Regions from separate parts of the Homo sapiens genome. Here region 2 is linked to region 1. The links come from fine-mapping of genetic effects on gene expression. A gene starts in region 1. The other region holds a variant in brackets. All regions are shown on one strand. Distances are between the middles of the regions. Region 1 holds the start of RNASET2 (ribonuclease T2). Region 2 overlaps RNASET2 (ribonuclease T2).

Evidence for each region. PIP is the estimated chance that this variant, and not a neighbour inherited with it, causes the effect.
Region 2: its variant is fine-mapped to the expression of RNASET2 in whole blood (GTEx, PIP 0.96).

Annotation. Positions count from the first base shown.
Region 1 is chr6:166,950,975-166,960,704 of GRCh38, reverse strand. RNASET2 (ribonuclease T2) reads left to right here and starts at 4,155. Exons shown (of 9, transcript NM_003730.6): 1 at 4,155-4,608; 2 at 8,157-8,217. The coding sequence starts at 4,523. RefSeq lists a cis regulatory region at 1,119-1,405, enhancers at 2,086-2,205, 9,105-9,730, 9,264-9,730 and silencers at 3,170-3,219, 3,490-3,589, 3,630-4,389.
Region 2 is chr6:166,931,066-166,944,391 of GRCh38, reverse strand. It overlaps RNASET2 (ribonuclease T2), which reads left to right. Exons shown (of 9, transcript NM_003730.6): 5 at 1,303-1,373; 6 at 5,384-5,497; 7 at 10,256-10,301; 8 at 13,274-13,326. It also overlaps the pseudogene LOC105378119. Among named protein-coding and RNA genes, the nearest start is that of RNASET2, 19 kb to the left of the region's middle. RefSeq lists an enhancer at 2,997-3,497. The variant C/A (reference allele first, on the strand shown) is at 9,464.

The DNA of each region.
Region 1 (9,730 bases):
CAGGCTGGCATGGCAAGGCCAGAGGTGCTGGGACACCCTGACCAACATGGTCAAACTCCGTCTCTACTAAAAACACAAAAATTAGCCGGACGTGGTGGCACACGCCTGTAATCCCAGCTACTCGGGAGGCTAGGGCAGGAGAATTGTTTGAGCCTGGGAGACGGAGGTTGCTGTGAGCCGAGATTGTGCCACTGACTGCACTCCAGCCTGGCTGACAGAGTGAGACTCTGTCTCAAAAAAAAAAAAAGAAAAAGAAAAAGAAGAGAAAGGGCAGGGAAACACCCAGCAGCTGGCCTCACTTTCTCAGCAAATAAGTAATTCAGGATGGAAAGGAGTTTTTAAGGTGAGATTCTTTCAAGTGTGACAAAGCTCTTTAGAGCATGAGAATCCTAAACTGTGTAGTTGTGCCACTGCTCTGCCATTGGAATGGCCAGCACCAGATATGGGCTGTTCCTACCGCCTGGGTTCCAGAGTGAAAAATACCGTGGACCACAGTGGCATCTGACGCATAGCCAGCATGGAATATGGGCAAATGAATGATAAATGATCAACTTCCGTTTAAGTGAGACACTGAGATTTGGGGGCGGTGTATTATTGTAGCATAACCCAGCAAAAGCTGGCATGGAAACAGGAAACCTGGAGCTAATGCCAAGAAGAGGTTGTGTGGTGAAAGTATCTTGGTCTCTTCAGAATTAACAAGGATTTAAGGATGTCTGTTCATAGACATGGCTGTTGCCATCCTGTCCCCCTCCCCTCTCCTAAGGACATGTTTCTATACAAGCCAGCAGCATCTTTTAAACCTCATAGTTTGTACCCTTTTACACTATGTTGTGTGAGTCAATGTAATTCCCACTCTGGCCCCTGCCCACCTGCTTGATGCTGGAGCCCTCTTTGTTTTCGTAAAGCTGGGCGGCTTCCAGACCCAAATCCAGCCTTTACAGCCACTGCCTCTTCCCTACGTAGGGTTCCGTTTAGGATCCTGGTAGGTGGACAAGTAGTGAACAAGACAGATGACAGATGCTCCAGGTTCACATCCAAGTTTTGGGGGGTTGAGAGCTTTTCCATTTGGATGTCCTTCTTTAAGAACAAGAAGGTAAAATTGTGAATACGGAATGAGATATGGGGTCTTGGTGGGGCCCATGCCAGCAAGGGGCCTGAAGCTCCTCATTAGCTTCCGATGTGGGGGTGGGGGAGTAGAAGTGGGCAGTACAGGAGGAAGTGACAAGAATTCTCAGGGGTGGGGAGAACTGTGTCGAAAATAAACAAGGAAGTGCAACAGGAAATGACTGGGTGGCTTCTTCAGGCTGGGTAGGACGCTGCTGAATTTATCTGATAAAAATCTCCTCTCTGTGAGTTGTGGAAAGTGGCTTGCTGCGAGAGACCCCCTTCTTCCCCACATAACATAGGTAAGAGTGATAGAAGTGATGCAGCTGGGCGCTGTCTCCAAAAAAAAAAAAAAAAAAAGGAAAAGTGACGGATGCTCCCCTCACTCCACCCCCTACCCATTACCTAGGACAAAGCCAGACACAGATCCTCCAATTCCCATTCTTCACCTCATCAATGATGAGCCAGTCAATAGAAATAACACACTTGTTAAGCAAACTTGGTGAGGCTCCTCTCTTCCCCCGAGGCTGAGGACTTTTGGCCTCATCTTAGCCTGAGTCAGTCCCCCCTGAGAACAGGCTGGCCACGGGGTCAACCTTCTCTGATCTAATGTCCTATGAAGGCAGGTTCTCATCCCACTTCTCCATTCCCAGTTCATTCTTTCTCTCTCTTTCTTTTTCTCTCTTTCTTCTTTCTTTCATTCATTCTTTTTGTTGTTGTTGTTGACCGAGTCTCACTCTGTCGCCCAGGCTGGAGTGCAGTGGCGCGATCTCGGCTCACTGCAACCTCTGCCTCCTGGGTTCAAGCGATTCTCCTGCCTCAGCCTCCAGAGTAGCTGGGATTGAGGGAAGAGAGAGACCCTCTCATATTGTTTTATATTGTTTTATACTCAGTACCTGTTTTAAGAAAAAAACAAGGAAGTGAAATCAAAGACAGGCAGCCCGGCGCCAGGCCCAAAACCGGACCTGGGCCTGCCTGGCCTAAACCTAGTAGTTAAAAATCAACTCATGACTTAGAGACCGATGTTATTCATAGATTCCAGACATTGTATAGAAGAACATTGTGAAACTCCCTGCCCTGTTCTGTTTCTCTCTGACCACCAGTGCATGCAGCCCGTCACGTACCCCTTGCTTGCTCAAATCAATCACGACCCTTTCATGTGAAATCTTTAATGTTGTGAGCCCTTAAAAGGGACAGAAATTGTGCATTCGGGGAGCTCGGATTTTAAGGCAGTAGCTTGCCGATGCTCCCAGCTGAATAAAGCCCTTCCTTCTATAGCTCGGTGTCTGAGAGGTTTTGTCTGCCGCTCCTCCTGCCACAGGATTACAGTCGCGTGCCACCCCCGCCCAGCAAATTTTTGTATTTTTAGTAGGGACAAAAGGCCCCCAGGCCCCTGCAATAATGGTCCTCATAACACCACTCCTCCCCGAGTCCAGATTTGCTTTATATTTGGCAGTGGTCACAACAGCCCTCCTTGACAAGGGGCTGTTTAAACACACCGGACTGTGATTTAAAGGAAAATGAGGATTCTGGGAAGCACTTTTGTTTTAAGAAAATTATTTTTTTAGCTTAAAAGAAAAGAGAAAAAGAACTGTGGCGTGTGCCTATATTCTTGAGAGGAAGGAATGAAAGGAGCCGGAAAGAAACAAATAAGTCGTTAGGGAAAAGGAGAACGAGAATAACACCATGACCTGTAGGAGGTCCTGGAGGAGCTAAGGAGGTGTCAGCCATTTTCCCCCCCCATCTGTTCCACAGGTGGCATTTTATTGAGCACCGACTGTCCCCCATCCACTGTGCTCAGTGGCAGGGACTCAAGGTGGGCAAAATAGACATGGGCCTTGCCTTGCAGTCTAGTGGGAAAAACAGATTAATCATTTAAATATTTTGTTTCAAAGAATGGTAATGCATGCAGGCAAGGTCCAGGCCTGTGGGAGAGCAGGCTACAGGCCCACCTGCTATTTAGACAGTTACCAGTGGCAGAGGACCCCGAGGAAGGCGCAGTTTACTCGACGTGTAAATAGGAATAGCCTTAACTAGCTGTGGGTGTGCGGACAGGGAAGGGAAAGAGGAGAAACATCTGCAGAGACAATGCCGGGTGCACAGCCCGTGGGCGGGGCCGCGGGTGCAGGGGAACCCGTGCCTCTGAAGGGCTGGGAAGGCCAGGGTGTTGGGGGAGGAGACCGGGCCTATGGGACTGGCCCTGGCTACGCCAAGGTGGGGCTGACATGAAGTCCCCTTCATCCGTGGGGGGTGGCCCGTCCCTCTGGGAGGGGATCCCTCACAAGATGACTTCCCAGGTCGCGCCCCGAGGCGGCTCTTTGCTGCCCCCACAGAGATGACTTCCGGGCTCCTGGGGCCCGCGGGGAGGGGCAGGTGAGGCCCAGGGCTGGGTGAGGGCCAGGCCCTTCTAGGAATGTTGGTGCTCCCAGCACCTAGCACCGGGAGACTGGAGAGGTTTCCAGGAGAGTGACCCGAGTAGGTCCCCTCCTAATTCTGGAGCCGTCCCTCGGGCTGCGCAGTGGAGCGCCGAGGTGGCGGGAGGCTGCGGGGAGCCTGGGCGGCCAAGCACCATCTGCAGTCAGGAGCTCCCGGGCAGCTTGCAGGGCGCAGTTTTTGAAAGCGGGTGCTGCGTGCGGACCGCGGGCCTGCAGGGTGCGCGGGTCGGGCTGGGGGCTGTCCCTGGAGAGTAGAGTGGCCCTGGGGCCCGCACGCCCACTTGCTGGCGGGGGATGGCGCAGACACGGGCGGTCCCCCCGAGGGCGGTCCTCACGGGTGGTCTAGGTTAGCTCGGACCCGGGAGTGTGGGAGTGGCGCAGAGCTGCGGGAAAAGGCGCGGGGCGCCTGCGTGGCGAAGGAACACAGCCGCCTGACACGCCCTCAAGGCCCGCGGAGCTGCTCCTGCCTCGGCCTCTCTGAGCCAACCACGGGGCGGGGCGTGAACGCCGGGCGGGGACGTGCCGTTCTGGGGGGCGTGTCCACCGGCGGGGGCGTGCCGTCCTGGGGGCGTGGCTCTCTGCTCCGGTGCAGGCCCGCAGGGCGCCCTGGGCTGGGAGCAACGCGACTGACCGTGGTCGTGGGCGGACGGCGGCTGCAGCGTGGAGGAGCTGGGGTCGCTGTGGGTCGCGAAGCAGAGCCCGGGACGTGCGCGCTTGGTGCACGATCCTGAAGGGGAGCTCCGAGGGGCCCGGGTCGCCAGGGCTGCTGCGGCCATTCCCGGAGCCCGGCGCGGGGCCCGCGAGATACTGGTTTAGGCCGTCCCAGGGCTCCGGGCGCACCCGGTGGCCGCTGCTGCAGCGGAGGGAGCGCGGCGGCGCGGGGGCTCGGAGACAGCGTTTCTCCCGGAAGTCTTCCTCGGGCAGCAGGTGGGAAGTGGGAGCCGGAGCGGCAGCTGGCAGCGTTCTCTCCGCAGGTCGGCACCATGCGCCCTGCAGCCCTGCGCGGGGCCCTGCTGGGCTGCCTCTGCCTGGCGTTGCTTTGCCTGGGCGGTGCGGACAAGCGCCTGCGGTGAGTTACCTTGCGAGGTAAAGTGGGGAGCGTGGGAGCCGGGCCCTAGAGCTTTCCACTGGGTGAAGGCTGCAGCTCTCGGGGTCGGCGGTCGCTGAGCCCCGGGCAGCGACTGGGGAGGGCGGGGGGAGCCGAGCACGCTCCGGGGTGACCCCTGGGAAGAAGTTGGGAAGTTGAGCACGCCTCGGGGTGACCCCTGGAGGGAGTGGGTTGGGGGGAGCCCTTAGCACACTCAGAAGTGACCTCTGGGAAGGAGTGCGATGAGGGGAGTCCTGAGCACGCCCCGGGGTGACCTCTGGGAAGGAGTGGGTTGGGGGGAGCCCTGGGCACGCTCTGGGGTGACTCCTGGGAAGAAGTGGGTTGGGGAGCCCTGAACACTCCCCGGGGTGACCCCTGGGAAGGAGTAGGGGGTAGGGTGAGGTCCTGGGTACACTCCAGCCTGGAGCTGGACTGGAAACTCATCCCACAGACTGCTCCCAGCCTAGGACGCGACAAAGCAGGTGGCAGGCTTGGTGGAGCACTGTTCCTGCACTCGAAGTTCTCTCAGAGGTCGAAGAAGTCGTGGAGGGGACACTTAATTTCAGCTTTCACTGCGGCGGGTGGTGAAACGACGGTTCTTCCTCTTTTTGAGTATCCTGTTCTGAATCCCTTCCCTTGGCTCGCCCTCCGCGTGTGTGTGTGTGTGCGCGTGTGTGTGTGCGCGTGTGTGTGTGTGCGTGTGCGTTTGTGTGTGCGTGTGTGTGTGCGTGCGTGTGCGTGTGCGTGCGTGCGTGTGTGTGCGTGTGTGTCGTGTGTGCGCGTCTGTGCGTGTGTGTCGTGTGTGCGCGTGTGTGTGTGTGCGTGTGTGCGTGTGTGTGCGTGCGTGCGTGTGTGCGCGTGTGTGCGTGCGTGTGTGCGTGCGTGTGTGCGTGTGTGTGTGTGGCAGCCGCCCAAATTAATTAGGGGTAAACAGGCGGTGCTGCAAAGAACTCCAACTTTAATTCTGTGGAAGATACCAATATTTGAATACCATATTATTTCTTTCTATTTGGGTAATGATCGGGTTAATAGGATTTCTTACTTACATAGTAGGTGTGGAAAAGGTGGGTTTTACTTATTTATTTTTTTTTAGACAGTCTTACTCTGTCACTCAGGCTGGAGTACAGTGGCGTGACCTCAGCTCACTGCAACCTCCACCTCCCGGGTTCAAGCGATTCTCCTGCCTCAGCCTCTGAGTAGGTGGGATTACAGATGCACACCACCACGCCTGGCTAATTTTTGTATTTTTAATAGCCAGGCTGGTCTCGAACTTCTGACCTCAGGTGATCCGCCCGCCTCGGCCTCCCAAAGTGCTGGGATTACAGGCGTGAGCCACTGCACCCGGCCAGGGTTTTACTTTTTAAACACCTTAGGTATATATTTTTAATCATGTACATTAAAATGTAGCATTATATTTCAGTGTTCCGGAAAGTGTATTTTCTGAAAAAGAGCTACATTTATGTCCTTATTTATTGGCCATGAGGTTCAGAGCCTCTCACTGGGGAAGTCTGTGGCATGCTGGCCCTTGCTGGCTGAGTGGAAACTGCTAGTTCACACCCAGGTGTGGGACCTTTGAGCTCTCTATGCCCCAGTTTCCTCATCTGTAAAGTAGAAATAGTAACAGTCAGCCTCACAGAGTTGGCTTCAGGAGAAATCAGTTAAGGTACAGAATGTAACTTGGAATGATGTCTGGCTGGAAGTAAACATTAGCATAAAACAGGCTGTCATATGTGGATCCCCCACCCCAGCCCATAATTCATGCAACTGATATGATCGGACAAACTTGAGCAGGCAAGATTTGCGAGAACATGGTTGATTCAGACCACGAGGGCTTCATAGGTCAGCGGGCATTTTCCCAAGTTCTAACTGGTTTTGAGACCTTGGTGATTTTTCTTTCTTCTTTGACTTTCTTTAGCTTCTCCATTACTTTCTCCGTGAATAGGGGAGGGGGGCATCTGTGTGGGAGGGGGTCTCCTGCAGTCACATCACTCTGCCTGGTTTTAGATGGAGAGTTTGTTACAAACGTCTGAGTCTTGGTAGTTTTGTTGTAAGCATATTGATAGTCTCATCTTCCTGGGTGTTGCTAAGCTTTCCAGCCTCAGGTTCCGACTATGTAAAATAAGGTTTTTCACCCAAGGGTAAAAAATGCTTTACCAGCTCCAATTCTCACCCTGCAGCTCATCCTTTTTTTTTTTTTTTGAGACAGGGTCTGGCTGTGTAGCCCAGGTTGGAGTGCAGTGATGTGATCTGGGCTCACTGCATCTTCCACCTCCTGGGCTTAAGCTATCCTCTTGCCTCAGCGCCTTCCAAGTAGCTGGGACTACAGGTTCATGCCACCACACCTGGCTAATTTTTGTAGAGACAGGGTTTCACCATGTTGCCCAGGCTGGTCTTGAACTCCTGAGCTCAAGCAATCCTCCTGCCTCTGCCTCCCAAAGTGCTGGGATTATAGGTGTGAGCCACCACGCTTGAACCCTTTTTTCCTTTTATACTGAGAGCTTGCATAATTAGTTCCAATGTACAACTAAGTTTTCATACCATCTTAACTGTAAATTCTATACAAATTCAACAGGACTCAATTATTTACAAAAGCTAATGTGTGACAACTTGATCTTCTTACTTGGAATCTTCCCTTCTAAAATTTGATTTATCCTGAAGTGTCTGCTTGACTTATATCCTGTGTTGCTGCTGGCTTTTTCCATGTGCATTTTTTGCAAGCTGCTCTTTTTACTTCAGTCTCGTTAAGTCTTGCAGTTCTGGCTAGAGGCCTACTGCCATGAATAAGCTGCCGCTCCACAGTGGCTTCTTTGAAGTCTTAGAGTCAGATGAGTTTCACGGTGTTCAGGTTTGTGATCCAGTGTGGCCCCAGGTTCTGGGTAACACGTGTGATGCAGTGCTGTGTGCATACCATGTCGTGAATAACATTCATGATGCAGTGCACATACCGTGTTCAAGTTAACAGTCCTGGTGGCATCTGAAGTAGCACCCTAAAATCAAATGACACAAATTCTGCAGAGAAGCAAGTGAAGTCTAAAAACTGAGTTGGGGTAGTAACGATAAATAGCGTTATGCTAGTTCAGGTTATGTTTTGTTGCCAAATGAATTACAAAAAACTACCAGGTTTCAGGCTTTTATGGGTTTCACGAATGCAGGGGAGGGATCGTGGGTCTGCATTTCTCTTGAGCATCCTTAGGAGAAAGGTGCTTCGTGGCTCAGTGGCTTCCCTTCAGTGAGGCCCTCCCTGGCTGCACTCCTAGCTTGCCCTGCCTCCGCTTCCCCTCCTCTCCCCTCCTCCCCTTATCCTATTCATGTTCTCCGCCACTCAGCACTGGACGCCACCACACGTGCCTTCTTAGTGTAGGGGTGTACCGCCTTCCTCACGGGAGTGTGTGCAGCAGCAGGGCAGGCAGTGTTCCTCCTCCCACAGCACTCAGTGCTGAATGAATGATTGAAGGGATGGATGGGTGGATGAATTTTTTCTGTAACTTTAAAAAAAGTTCTTGAAAAATAAGTTTCTTATGTTTTAACAGTGACAACCATGAGTGGAAAAAACTAATTATGGTTCAGCACTGGCCTGAGACAGTATGCGAGGTGAGTGTTTCTGCCTTGACGGGCCCTGGGGCCTGGGGAGCCCTGTGAAGAGGGGTTTGTGTGCACGTGCCCGTCCAGGGCACCCACGCTGCTGGTGCGGGAGGTAGGCATCGCTCTGGCGGGTGGGCGGTGTCTCCTGCAGAGACTGCCTCCAGGAGGGCTGTGTGTGAGCTTCCCAGGGCTGCTGTAACAAAAGTGCCACAAGCTGGGTGGCTGAGAGCCTCAGGAATTTATTCTCACGGTCCTGGAAGGGGAAGTTTCAACCTAGGGGTCAGAAGGGTTGGTTCCTCCTGGAAGGCTCTGAGAGAGTTTGTTCTGTTTCTCTGCTAGCTTCTAGTAAGGACCCGTGGTCCTCTGCGTTCCTGGGCTGACCCATCACCCCAATCTCTGCCTTCTCCTTCACGGTGTGTTCTCCACTTTGTGTCTCTCTGTCTCTTCTGATGAGGACACCAGTAATTGGATTTAGGGCCCACCCTAATCTGGTATCACCTTTTCTTGATGACATCTGCAAAGACCCTGTGTCCATGTAGGGTCATGTTCACAGATGGGAGGAGGGGTTAGGACAGGGATATATCTTCTGGGAGGACACGGTTCAACCCACAGCAAGCCTCAGTTTGTCTCCTCCCTCTGTGGGCGGCAAGCCACCCAGGTGCCAAGGCAAGAGACCGAGGGCATAAGCTGTTCCAGTATAATAAAGAAAATATATAAAATGAGAACAGTTATACTAGAAATAGATTATAGATATGATGATATATGAATATTATTAATCATCAGTTTGTAGCATTGCTCTTTATTCCAATATTATAATAATCCTTGCTCTACAATTACAGCCTAGGAAAAACCAGGCCATACAGAGATAGGAGCTGAAGGGGCACGGTGAGAAGTGACCAGAAGACAAGTGTGAGCCTCTGTCACGCCCGGACAGGGCCACTAGAGGGCTCTTTGGTCTAGTGGTAACACCAGTGCCTGGGAAGGCAACCATTACTTAGCTGACCTCGGTCTAGTGGTAGCGTCAGTGCCTAGGGAAGGCACCCGTTACTCAGCAGACTGGGAAAGGGAGTTAGAGCAGACTCTGCTTCACCATACCTCTTGTGGATAGGCCTCATATCAGTCAGGCCTGCCCACAGCCATCTGGAGGCCTAACCATCTCCCCGTGATGCTGTGCTTCAGCAGTCACACTGCTGTTTCACTTTCATGTTCCACCCAGTACACCTGGCTCTGCCTTCTAGATAGCAGTAGCAGAATTAGTGAAAGTACTAAAAGTCTTTGAAATGCATAGAAGAAATAATGGCGTAAGCTGGCCTCTCTCTCTCTCCGCCTCCGCTGCCATACAGGGAAGGGCCCTCTGTCCAGTGGACACGTGACTCACGTGACCTTATCAGTCATTGGAGATGACTCACACTCCTTACCCTGCCCCTTTTGCCTTGTATCCAATAAACAACAGTGCAGCCAGGCATTCGGGGCCACTACTGGTCTCCGCGTCTTGGTGGTAGTGGTCCCCTGGGCCCAGCTG
Region 2 (13,326 bases), 18 kb after region 1:
GAAAAGGACCCTCATATAGGGTGCTGGAAAACAGGAGAAAGGGAAGGAAAGTGAAGTTATCCGAAGTTTGTTAAGCACCTTTTTACTGACCTTTTTGGGGTTTTTTTGGTGTAGAGGGTGTGTAGAAATAGAAAAGTAAACTCCAGTTCTGTTGGATTTAGCGCGACTGGTGCCCAGGCTGCCCAGCTCACACAAGCTCTTCTCTGGGAAAAGGAGAGCTTGTCCTTTGTTTGTTTGTTTGTTTTAACTGATGGTTTCGTTTTGTTTTTTTTTAAGATGGAGTCTCACTCTGTCGCCAGGCTGGAGTGCAGTGGCGCAATCTCGGCTCACTGCAACCTCCGACTCCCTGGTTCAAGCGATTCTCCTGCCTCAGCCTCCTGAGTAGCTGGGATTACAGGCATGTGGCACCGTGCCCAGCTAATTTTTGTATTTTTAGTAGAGACAGGGTTTCACCAGGTTGGCCAGGATGGTCTCGATCTCCTGACCTCGTGATCCGCCCGCATCGGCCTCCGAAAGTGCTGGGATTACAGGCGTGAGCCACCGTGCCCGGCCAATGTTTTTAGAACAGTTATAGGTTTACAGAAAAATTGGATGGAGATTACAGACAGTTCACTCCCTTCCCCCTCAACTCTCCCAATCATTAACATCTTCTATAGTGTGTTACATTTGTTACAATTAATGAACTGATACTGATACTTTATTATTAAATAAAGTTTAGCATTAACATTAGGGTTTACTCCTGTGTTGTGCGGCTTTGGACAAATGCAGGAGAGCAAGTCCCACCCAGTGTGCTCTGGAGCAGCCGCTGGCCCTAAACCCCCTGAGCCATACCTCCCCTTCTTCCTCCCCTTGAACCCCCAAGCAACCGCGAATCTCATTCCTGTCTCTTAAGACTACCTTTTCCAAATTGTCACGTCGTTGGAATCATACAGTATGTAGCCTCTGCAGACTGGCTTCTTGCACTTAGCAATGTATGTTTGCAGTTCCTCCAGTGTCTTTTCATGACTCGACGGCTCATTGGTTTTTGTTGCTGAAAATATTCCATTGTTTGGATGTACACTTTATCCCTTCACCTATAACAGCTTGTATTTTCGTGTGCAGTTTTATGATTACTCAAATTGCACTTGTAGATATATCTTAACAAACACTTCATACAAAATAAGCATAGGATTATTTTATTCACCAAAGTATTGTTAATTAGCAGAGCTCAATTCTTTGGTGTCAGTTTATCAAATTTACCTTCTAGGTTTTGAGTTTATTATTAAGAACCTGCGTAGACTTATTTTATTTTTTAATGCATAGGATCTTTTGCCAGAAATGAGGGCATACTGGCCTGACGTAATTCACTCGTTTCCCAATCGCAGCCGCTTCTGGTAAGTCCCAGCCTCTGATTGCTGTCTTGATTACTGTCTGAGCGGGTGTGGGGAGCGTGATGAATCGCTAGAAGTGGAAACTGTGTGGGAAGCAAGATAACAGAATCTGTCTTCTGGGGCTGAGCAGTTTGAACAACCTTTTATGAGATATGATTCTGTTACGGCATTTTTGGTGCCTTTCTCCAATGTATAAAAAATTGAAAGCAAGTGGAATTTACCATATAAGCCTGTTTTCTAACCTGTATGGTATTTATTACTTTGCTTTAAAACTTTTCTCGGCCAGTCACAATGGCTCGTGCCTGTAATCCTAGCACTTTGGGAGGCTGAGGCGGGTGGATTGCTTGAGCTGAGGAGTTTGAGACCAGCCTGGTAACATGACAAAATGCCACCTCTACCAAAAATTTAAAAGGTCAGCTAGATGTGGTATTGTGCGGCTGTGGTCCCGGGAGATCAAGGTTGCAATGAGCTGTGATCAGCTGGGGTGATAACTAGCCTAGGTGACAGGGTGAGACCCTGTCTCAAAAACAAAATAAAGATACAAATTTTCTCTTCTGAGGCTTAACAAAGTCCAATGCTTGCATATCTAAGAATTAGTCCATATCAGACAGGAGAGAATATTTCTTAAGGAAATTGTGCTCCTGTCTTCAAATACATTAAGAAAAAAGAGACCAGGCACAGTGGTTCACACCTGTAATCCCAGCACTTTGGAAGGCCAAGGCAGGTGGATCACTTGAGGTCAGGAGTTCGAGACCAGCCTGGCCAACATGGCAAAACCCCATCTCTACTAAAAATACAAAAATTAGCTGGGCATGATGGCGTACGCTTGTAATCCCAGCTACTTGGGAGGCTGAGGCAGGAGAATCAATTGAATTCAGGGGATGGAGGTTGCAGTGAGCCGAGATTGCACCACTGTACTCCAGCCCGGGCAACAGGGCAAGATTCCATCTCAAAAAAAAAAAAGAAGATGTCTTCTAAAATGATGATCTCATGCCTATGACTTAGGGAGGAGAGAAAGTGAGACTTAGCATGTGAGGCTGAGACCTCAGTCATAGTGAAGCACCTTTAAGTTCAGCAGAAGCTAAGCCTAGGGCATAAACGCCATGTTGAATTCAAGATAGCTTTTAAAATCCTGGCTTTTTTAAGAACATAAAGTTAAATTCCTTGTATTAACATTATATTAACTGAAGGTAATTATTTTCTCTATCCCACTTCAATATTGCAATTTATAATTCAGATTACAACCCATCAAATTTTAGGTGGGAAGATTAACCTAGAAATATTTTTGTGTATAATTTTCAGGAAAATTAAAAGTTAAGTTTAGAAGAAAGCTTTTGAAAACAAAATGAAATGGAAGTGATGTCCCCCTTTCTGGTTCATCGGTGTGGCAGTGAAGTGGCCTTAGGATTCATGGACCCTCAGTCTGTGCGTTGAATCACCCTTGAAAATTCGGGTGGTGAATGGTTCAGGTCTCAGTCACCTGTTCTGCACAGCCTGTGTTCTAGAAAATTATTTCAAAATAATGGCCATGATAAGTTGGAATGGAAGAAGATAGGAAAAAAAATTATATGTCACTTCACAGTGTACTTCAGATGATGAGTTTATGGTAACTGAGTTATGTGAAAGAGAATTTTTCCAGTTGTTACAATGTTCCATGATAGAGTCTGTCAGATTTTAGCTAAATGGCTTAAAATAAATCAGCAAACATGCAAAGGCCTTCAGTGAGCTGGGTCTTGAGCATTTAATCAAAACAGTGTGGGCACAGTATGCATTTATTTTTGGGCTCTGATAAAGGCAAGATGACTTACTTTAAATTTTCAGGTTGATAGTTGAATTACACACTTAAAAAACTGGTTCTAAATGAAAAAGATAAATCTCACACACAAATTAATATTTATATTTTTGAGTGCTCCTAAATACAAAATATCAGCTAGGGAGGAGCTCCTGTCTGGGCTGTGTCACCCAGTCCTGTGCCTATCACTCAAGTCACCTGACTAACTCCATGGGGGTTGGCCTCTGGCTTCTCCACCTCTGCTCCTTGGGCAGGGGAAGGTGTCACAGCACTGCTGTGGAATGTGTCTTTGGGCATAACCAGCCCCGAGGACTGGCTGCCTGTTGTGGCCGAGCGGGCTGGGTGACAGTGGGTGGGTGAGCCTGGGACATCCGCTCCTGGCTGCATCTGCTCTTGGTGGGTGAGTCAGGGTGTCTCTCAGCACAGAGGGCAACACGCTGAGTCACTTCGCATTGGTGACTGACCGTTCTGATGCTTAAAAAAAAAAGGTCCAGTCCAAATGAAGTGTGAGTGAATGCTGTGAGCTCCATGAATATCAATCTATTTCCAACATCTGTTGAGTTAAGCTTGCTCCAGGAATAATGATGGCTGACATTTACTGTTTATTGTGAGCCAGGAACTGTTTTCATTCATGTGGAAGGGCTCAGCACACCTCATCTCACCTGCAGAATTACCCCTGTTTTATAGAAACTAAGTCACCTGGAATTCAGGTTACATTTCAATTAGTTTAAAATAATCTCCTTTTTCTACCTTATAGGATATAGGAAGTTATCAGGTAATTTGCTCTGGAAAGGCTTCTAGATGAAGACAGTTACTCATCCACTTTCATCGTTCCTGTTTTCAACTTTTCATCATTTTCTGAGAGTTAAATCAATAGGAATTATTTAAAACTAGTATTTTGGATGAATTTTGCCAGTGAATTAATGCACATTTAGATTGTGTTTTTAAGACTGCATATAAGTGCTTTATAAGTGGTTGCATGAATGTTATTTATTAAAACTTCATGAATTCATCACCAATAAAGCTGAGGAAATCTGATTCCCATTTTGTCTTTTCATGCTAAAGATGATAAACATCTGATGACACGCCAGTCATTCTGAAGGTGGCTGTCAATCTCGTCAGCAGTTGATTGGATGACAGCCCAGTGCAGTGGGAAGGGCGCTGACCTTGGACTTGAGCGTGGCCTTCAAGGGCAGGCTCTGAGTGACCTTCAGCAAGTCCCCTGGCCCTTCTGGGCTTCCATTCCCTGTCTGTAAACTAGCAGTGATATTTCCGCCTTGCAGAGTTTTGAGAACCAAACGAAGAACGTGAAAGATTTTTGTAAACCTTTAATCTGCAGTAAAATATCAGGAATCATTCTCAGTGACCACATTTTTCTGGAATACAAATTGCTGTTCACGTGCAGCCCTTTAGTTATAGGCTATTCAGTTGTTCTTATTGTCCTCTATGTAGAATGGATGCTTAAACTATAATTTGTAGAAGCTGAAATGGAAAATGGGCCTGAGGTGTTTCCTGGTAATTAGCTGTCCTGCCTTTCCATGGCTGGTTGCTTAGAAATGACAGTTTGTGCCACTCTGCGAAATTCCCTGACTGCAAAGCACCCACTCACTGCAGGAGACCACACGTTGCTTTGTGAATCAGTGGGGGTTGGGGCAGCAGCATGTTCTTTTTTCTCAGCTTTGATTTGTTGTTAATTGAGCAAGCTGTAATTGTAGACGTGAACTGAAACTGATTATTTAATCGTGGGGGATTGAAATAATTGCCTATGTTGCAAATAAGGAATTTTATCCTTCCTACTTTGTAAAAGAAATGACATGCCTACCACATGGGAATAGTCTGTGCTGAGAGAAAACATGCTTGAGCATTTTAATTGGGAATCAGTTTCATTACTTTTTTTTTGAGATGGAGTTTGTCTCTTGCCCAGGCTATAGTGCAATGGCATGATCTTGGCTCACTGCAACCTCTGCCTCCCGGGTTCAAGCGATTCTCCTCCTCAGCCTCCTGAGTAGCTGGGATCTCAGGCACCTGCCACCACACTCGGCTAATTTTTTTGTATTTTTAGTAGAGACAGTTTCACCATGTTGGTCAGGCTGGTCTCAAACTCCTGATCTCAGGTGATCCACCCCCTTCAGCCTCCCAAAGTGTTGGGATTACAGGCATGAGCCACTGCACGCAGCCTGTTTCACTACTTTTAAGTGGAGATTTTTCCTAATCCTCACAGGAAGCATGAGTGGGAAAAGCATGGGACCTGCGCCGCCCAGGTGGATGCGCTCAACTCCCAGAAGAAGTACTTTGGCAGAAGCCTGGAACTCTACAGGGAGCTGGACCTCAACAGGTGGGTGCGCCCTTCCCCCGGCTGCACTTCCCAGTGGGGATCTCTGCTGTCGCCCAAGCCTGACAGCTGGATCCAGGGGAGTGGGTGTAGACCTCACTGCCCTCCAGCAGCTTCTGCATGTGCACTATTCGGCTACTGGGATCATTCCTGAGGAATGTTCTGAGCCTACCAAGCCTTTCCAGATCATTCTACATCACGATCACACAGAGTGGGTGCAGAGTATTGGGATGCCCATCTGGGCACCATCTCATCATCAGAGTCGGCCATAGGGAAAACGAGGACTCCAACCAGCATGTGCCGTTCTCAGCCATGATTCCTGATAAAGGATAGTGCATTAATAAGTCGTTTCCTTAGAAAGACGGAAACTCTGGAAGTCTGTAGGTCTTTGCCGCAGAACTCCTGGAACAAGCAGGCAGGAAAGAGATGTGGGCCAGGGTTCTTTAAGCCCCAGAAATGACCCCAACCTGCCTAAATCGTCCCTGCCTGCCCTCACCTCTATTCTTGAGAAGTGGAATACGTTGTCCCACTTGAGCCAGTTGACTTGTAAAGCAAAGTGCCTTCTGAGCGCCACACCGAGCCCACTCACTGTCCGAATCTGGTTGCTAGAGAGCCAGGGTGTGCCCTTACCTCTCCGTCGGGACGTTTCAGGGTGTCAGCGTCTTAGCTGCTCTCACTGACCTTCATCATAAGAGGTCATAATAAACCAGTGAAGTCGTGAAAAACATGACAGGCAATTGCACAGCCTCTGTGTTGCTGCTTTTGGAATTCACGCAGCTTGTTTTAGAGCAATTCTCCTTCAAATCAGAATAATACCAGGAGCCTTAGCTAATCAGCTGTATTTAAGGTTTCTGAATCAAAACTGCTTAAAAGATGAATAAACCTCCATTGCTTATCTAGACATGTGCTTTGCCTCCTCAACGTACAAAATCGTCTCACACAGATGGTCTCCTGTGTCATCTGATGAAACGCAGTCTAACAGCTGCAACTTGGGTGGGATAGAGCTCAGGCACTGATAGAAGAGGGGCTTGGCACGGTTAGCGGGGATCAAGATTACATCAAAGAATGCCCTGTGAATAAACTTCTTTAAAAATCACCTCCCAGAGCGCGTGGCATTAGGTGTGCCTTTTCATCCTGGTTCTGACACTAACTAGTTGTACAATTTGTGTATCTAACCTCTAGCTCTTTTTTCCATGCTGTGAAATAAATGGATAGGTTGCCCTCAACCCTGAAGTCTCTTCCAGCTCTTAAAATCTGCACTACCAGGTATATACACTAAGAAACGTACACAGACCTATACACTTTGATTTGTATATAGTTTGTGTATATAATTTGATCTATGTAATTTAATCTTAGGTTTTTAATAAAGGAAGCATTGCTTTCTTGCAGTAAGAGCAATATTTTAGGAAACATTTTCTCACCTAACAAATGTAGCTAATTAGCTGTTCAGAAATCATTATGGGCCATGTGTGGTGGCTCATGCATGTAATCCCAGCACTTTGGGAGGCTGAGGTGGGTGCATCACCAGAGGTCAGGAGTTCAAGACCAGCTTGGCCAACATGGTGAAATCCCATCTCTACTAAAAATACAAAAATTAGCCAGGTGTGGTGGTGCATGCCTGTAATTCCAGCTACTCGGGAGGCTGAAGCAGGAGAATGGCTTGAACCCAGGAGGTGGAGGTTGCAGTGAGCTGAGATCGTGCCATTGCACTCCAGCCTGTGCGAAAAGAGCAAAACTGTCTCAAAAAAAAAAGTCATTATGAGGATTAACCAAGAGAGTGTCTTAGGTAGCTCCTGGAGCACAGGAGACTTGCAGTTAAAAAGAAAGTCTGACATTGCTGAAAGACTGGCAGGGTAGGACCCACTTTGGAGATGACAAGAAAGATGCCCTCTGTTTCAAAACAGGGGTCTCACAGTCCTGACCCTGCTGCAGAGTGCTGGTGTTTTCCAGGCTGACTCCATAAACCAGTTCATTTAATCAAACAGAGAAAGGATAAATGGATACTACTGAAAATTTTAAAATCAATCATCTAAATAATTCATCTCTGTATCCAACAAATAGTTTATTAAGTGGCTCCTACTTACACTCGTTGAAACTCAGTAGCTTTCCTGCTATGGTTTGGATGTGGTTGGTTTATCCCCACCAAATCTCATGTTGAAATTTGATCACCAGTGTGGAGGTGGGAGGTGTTTGAGCTGCGGGGAAGGATCCCTCATGAGTAGGTTAATGCCCCCTTGCAGGGGTGAGCGAGTTCCCACTCAGTTCCCCAGAGAGCTGGTTGTTAACAGGAGCCTGGCACCGCCCCCAACCCCTGGCTTCCTCTCTGGCCATGTGATCTCTGTACACACCAGCTCCCCTTTGCCTTCTGCCATGAGCGGAAGTTTCCTGAGGCCCTTGCCAGAAGCAGAATCTGGTTCCATGCTTCTCGGACAGCCTGCAGACCCCTGAGCCAAAAAAACCTCTTTTTTTAAATAAATTACCCAGCCTCAGGTATTCCTGTATAGCGACACTAGACAGACTGAGACACACACACACACACACACACACGACACATGCAAAACTCTAAGTCCTGGAGTTCCTGTGGGGATTCAGCAGAGCCCAGTGCTGCCCTGCCATTGCTGTAGATGGGAATGGTGCGTCCTCCATTCATTCATTCATTCATTCATTCAGTAAATGTTCACTGAGGGCCTGCCAGGGCAAAGCACTACTGAGAGTATGTTTGCTAAAACCTATAAAGAACAATTATAGGAAAATTATATTCTTAGTTTCTCCAAGGGAAATCTATAATTCTTAGTGCCTTCATTTTAATCTAAAAATTAAATTAAGAAGTCAAAATTTAAGACCCCTCATTTTTCCTTGTAAACTGGTATCACAAATTATCTTTTTCTCATAGGTTGGCTTTTCAAATTATCATAAACTGGAACAGGCTGGGCACAGTGGTTCACGCCTGTAATCCCAACACTTTGGGAGGCCAAGGCGGGTGGATCATGAGGTCAGGAGTTCATGAACAGCCTGGCCAACATGGTGAAACCCCCGTCTCTACTAAAAATACAAAAATTAGCTGGGCATGGTGGTGCACGTAATCCTAGCTACTCAGGAGGCTGAGGCAGGAGAATCTCTTGAAACCAGGAGGCGGAGGTTGCAGTGAGTCGAGATCGCACCACTGCAGTCCAGCCTGGGCCACAGAGCAAGACTCTGTGTCAAAAAAATAAAATAGAATAAAAAATTGTAGCTTGTTTTTCTTCACTTCATAATATGAAGGCAGCAAACCTGAAAAACCACAAATCATCTTGAAGCAAAGTTGTCAGGGTTCCCATAGACACAGATGAGCTGATGGCACGTGCTAGAGTACCCACAGATAAAGACCTGGGATGCGTGCCAAGCTCATCTCAACTCAGCAGAAAGCATGATGCTGGGTTAGGTGCTGCATTTCCCCACATCTTTCTCTCTTTGCCGTATTCCCTTGATCACCCAAGTCAGGAGCATGCTACCCAATAGACGTGTAACACGAGCCACAGATGTCATTTTAAATTTTCTAGTAGCATCATTAAAAGGAGCAAAAAGAAACAGGTTAAATTAATTTCAAAAATATTTTATTAAACTCAATATATCAAAAATAGGATCATCGAAACTTAGGATAAATATTAAAAAATTAATAAGCTAGTTTACATTTTTTTTTTTTAACTGCAAAGTCTGAAACCTGTTATTCATACAACACCAACAGCTAGGGTAGGCGAGGTCCTGTGGGTTCGGGCCATGATGGGGCTGAAAGGACCCTGGTCCGGCATCTCGGTCCTTGTTCCAGGAACTCTGTGGCCAAGACAGTCTGACAATAAGTTATTGCCCACAGAGGATGTCTAAGTCTTTGTGTCCACTCTGTGATCGTGATCTAGAATTTTCTACCAAGGCTTGATGGGGAACTAGGATATTCTTCTGCAATGATTCAGAATTTTACAGTGTACCTTTATA[C/A]TTTAATAAGTGAATTCTATATATGGTAGTTTGGTAGGATTCTGTGTAGAAGTGCTTTAGGAGGTGATTGAAAGCTGTAGGGACTTACCATACGGTTATGTATTGCTTGGTGATGGGGTATAAAATTGTCATGTGAACATCTTGGAGTGCACTTACTTAGCTGATACAGCCCACGACACACATATGCTTTGTGGTATAGCCTGTTGCTTCGAGGCTACAAACCTGTACAGTGTGTGACTCTACTGAGTACTGTAGGCACCTGTATGTAACACAATGGTAAGGATTTGTGTATCTAAACATATCTCAACATAGAAAAGGCACAGTAGAAATGTGGTCATATGGGACCGCCCTCGTACATGCAGGCCTTCACTGACTGAATGTCGTAATGTGGCGCATGACTGTGTTTAAAGATTTGTCCAAATGCAGTTTACCAGGATAAGCCTGGAATCCGATTTCAATTGCTGTCTTTTAAAGCAGGTGTGGCAAACGGGTGGTGATGTGTGTGCCAGCTCCACTCGGTGGTGGCCCCAGCGCTCCCATGCTCCGAAGGAGTCAGGAACTGGAAAGGGTACCTGCCTGGAGCAGTTTGTGTGTGTGCTAAGGGGTGGGGAAGGCGGGGACTGGGAACCATGTATTTGCAGTCCATGTTGACACATTTGTTGCATAAAGTCATAGAAAACACTTTCCTTTAAGAGTGTCTTAATTTTTACCATGAAATATGATACCTGAAAAGAACAAGAAAGCAAAGTGGACCTTCATTATACAGCTAACTTTTTTAAATTTAAATTTTAGTGTGCTTCTAAAATTGGGGATAAAACCATCCATCAATTACTACCAAGTAAGTCTTGCTTTTGCTTCTTTTCTCGTGTGTCTCTCCCGGGGACCTCCAGTAGGGCCGTTTCAGCCTCTGAGTCAATGGGCTGTAAATTGCCCCAGTGCAAACCCCCTTCCTACTTAAATGTTATCATGTGAACAGATTTTATTTGCATTTTATTTTCCTGCGCATGTTGAGTAGGAGCTGAAGGCTGCTTAGACCAGTGATTTGGAAGCACAGATTTCATGGCTCCCTTTGTGAGAAGTGTGTGCTCCAGGGTCCGGCAGAGCAGGTGGAATCTGCAGTTTCAAGAGTCACATTCACTTTTATAACGTAGTCTTATATTTGTTTGTGGTTTGTTTTCATGATAAAATTGTGATTTGTTTTATGATAAAAGAAACTATAGATATTTAAGCATGACAAGATGTTATTAGCTGGTAAGCATATACAAAAAGTTGCTTTTTGCCAGGTGTGGTGACTCACGCCTATAAATCCCAGGACCTTGGGAGGCTCAGGCTGGAGGATTGCTTGTGGCTAGAATTTCGAGACCAGCCTGGGCAGCAGAGTGAGACCTCTAGAAAGAAGTAAAAGTAGCTGAGCATGATAGTATGTGTCTGTGGTCTCAGCTATTCAGGAAGCTAAGGTCAGAGGATTGCCTGCGCCCAGGAATTTGAGGCTGCAGTGAGCCATGGTCGCCCCACTGCACTCCAGTCTGGGCGACAGCCAGATCACGTCTCTTTAAAAAAAAAAGAAAAAGTAGTTGTTTTCAACTCTTGGTTGCCTGTTTTTGTAAACAAAATTGTACTCCTTTGTTACCTGGGGATGCTTGTGCTCCCATGGTGTAGCTGCAGTAGGGACCGATGTGTCATCCACAAATCCCGGGATATTTACGACGTGGACCTTTACGGAAAATGTTTGCAGACTCTTGCCTTAGAGAAAGGTATCAGATTCTTTGAGATAGTTTTCGTATTTATCACAGGTTGTGGATTTAGAAAAAGGTTGAAAGTCACTGATCTTAGTAGTTCTGGGGCGATGGCTGGATGTTGAACAATTATTTTGGTATCTTGACTGTTTGTGAAATAAATTGGCAACAGTGTCTTTGCTCTCATGGTGTCTGCTTACCTGTGCAGCCATTTTTCCAGAGTGTGGGGAGCAGTGGACTTGAGGAAGGAGTCTACCAGCCCTTTCCAGACTCCCCCTCAACCCCAACCCCAGGAAGCCGTAAGATGATCGCTTGCAGGGCCCTCACCGTCCTCACCTGGACTCATGTGCGAATAGATGAGGGACATGTGCCTGCCATGTTTGCCCAGAGCTCGGTGTTCAGGGAACTGATTACAGGGGTGGCAAAAGCCACAGGGGCCACACATTTGCTGAGCTGCTTCCAGGTGCGAACGGCGCTTGTTTGGGCATCAGAAACAGCACGGTGGATACTCGGAGTCCTGTCCTTTGAAAGGAGTTTGATTTATCATCAGGAGAAATTTGTTGCTTTTGCATCCAGCATCCAGCCACGTATCCACTCATCTGTTTTATGGGGAAATCAGGGCTGCGGGAGCACCCAGGAGAGCTGCCGACCCAGACATTTCCTGGGAAATGCGTTGCTGAGATGGAGGCCTGCAGCCTGCCCAGGCCCTGAGGGGAGTGGTTCAGTGGAGCAGAGCTGGGGGCTGGGGGCTGGGAGATATGGGACCAGTTGCTTCTTGAGGGGGCTCAGGGGCAGAGCAGGAGGGTTGGGAAGGGGCCGGGTGGGAGCCATAGACATGAGGACCTCATCCTCCAGCAGCGCTGAGCTCTGAGTAGGCCGGGGTGTTTGCTTGTTGCTGTCCCCGTGGTACTGGGGAGAGGCTAGGCACAGAGACCCTCCGAGTAGGTCACATGCTGGGGGAATCTGGGCCTATGGCTATGCAGCTGGAGAGGAAGGGATAGTGTGGGGAGCTTGGACTTGGCCGTTTGGGACAGGGGGATGGGAGAGGCAGAGGTCCTGCCTCAGGCCTCCATAGGAGTGACATTTGCTGGTGTCAGAAGCTTGGCAAGAGGGGAGGATGATCAGACCCTGCATGGACAGTTCGAATTGGAGCTCTCTGCAGAGTCCAGGAAGAGAGGTCTGGATGGGAGGGAAGCCATGGGGTGGAAAAGATAGCTTCCAATGGAAGGCAGTGAAAACTCGCCATAAGTGAAGGAGAAGAAGGAGGCCAAGGAGATGGGGCAGGAATGGCAGCCGGCAGCCAGGCGGTCAGTGGAGCAGGTGCTCAGGAGGCCCACAGGAGAGCTTCGTGGAAGGAGTGGACAGTGTCTGAGGCAAGGGGCAAAAGGCATCTGCTGGAGCTGGTGACCCCAGCTTGGTGCCCCCCAAAGCCAGAGTACGAGGCTGAGAGGATGCAGGTGTCCTCCTAGGAGGTTTGAGTCAGAAGGCACGAGGCAGAAGCAGTGGGGGAGGACTCCCTCAGTAGAGCGAGGAGGAGGCCCCTCATCCAAGAGGAGGTTGGAGCACAGGGGGGTCTAGGTTTGCAGTTTCGGGACCGGTAGCTGAGGGGTCCCAGGGCCTTTCTTCTGTGAAGGAGAATGTGTCCACCGTGGGGAGGGGGTCGGGAGAGAGAGATACTTCAGAGTGGACAGGGCTGAGAAAGCTTTATGGGCCGCGAAAGGCAGAGTAGTTGTTGGTGGATGAGGGTGGCTGTGGCAGGTGGCGTTTCAGGTGAGACAGCTCGGGGCCCAGAAAGACACTGGGAGGAGGAGAGCTCTGCTCTCCAGAGAAACAGGAGCAGAGAGGAAAACAGAGCCGCAGCGAGCGGCTTGTGGTCTGGGGATGAAGCCCAGGTTGACAGCATCCTCTGCTTCGCTGGTGGAGGTGGGGGCATCATTCTCACACCTGTGCTGGGTCCTGTCCCTGCCAGCCAAGGGAGACCAGGACCCTGCCACTGTTGCGCTCAGGATAGTCCAGAACTGTCAGATCTTTTCTGTTGAAGTTTAATTTCTAATACACTTGTATTTAAAATCAGGTTGCAGATTTTAAAGATGCCCTTGCCAGAGTATATGGAGTGATACCCAAAAT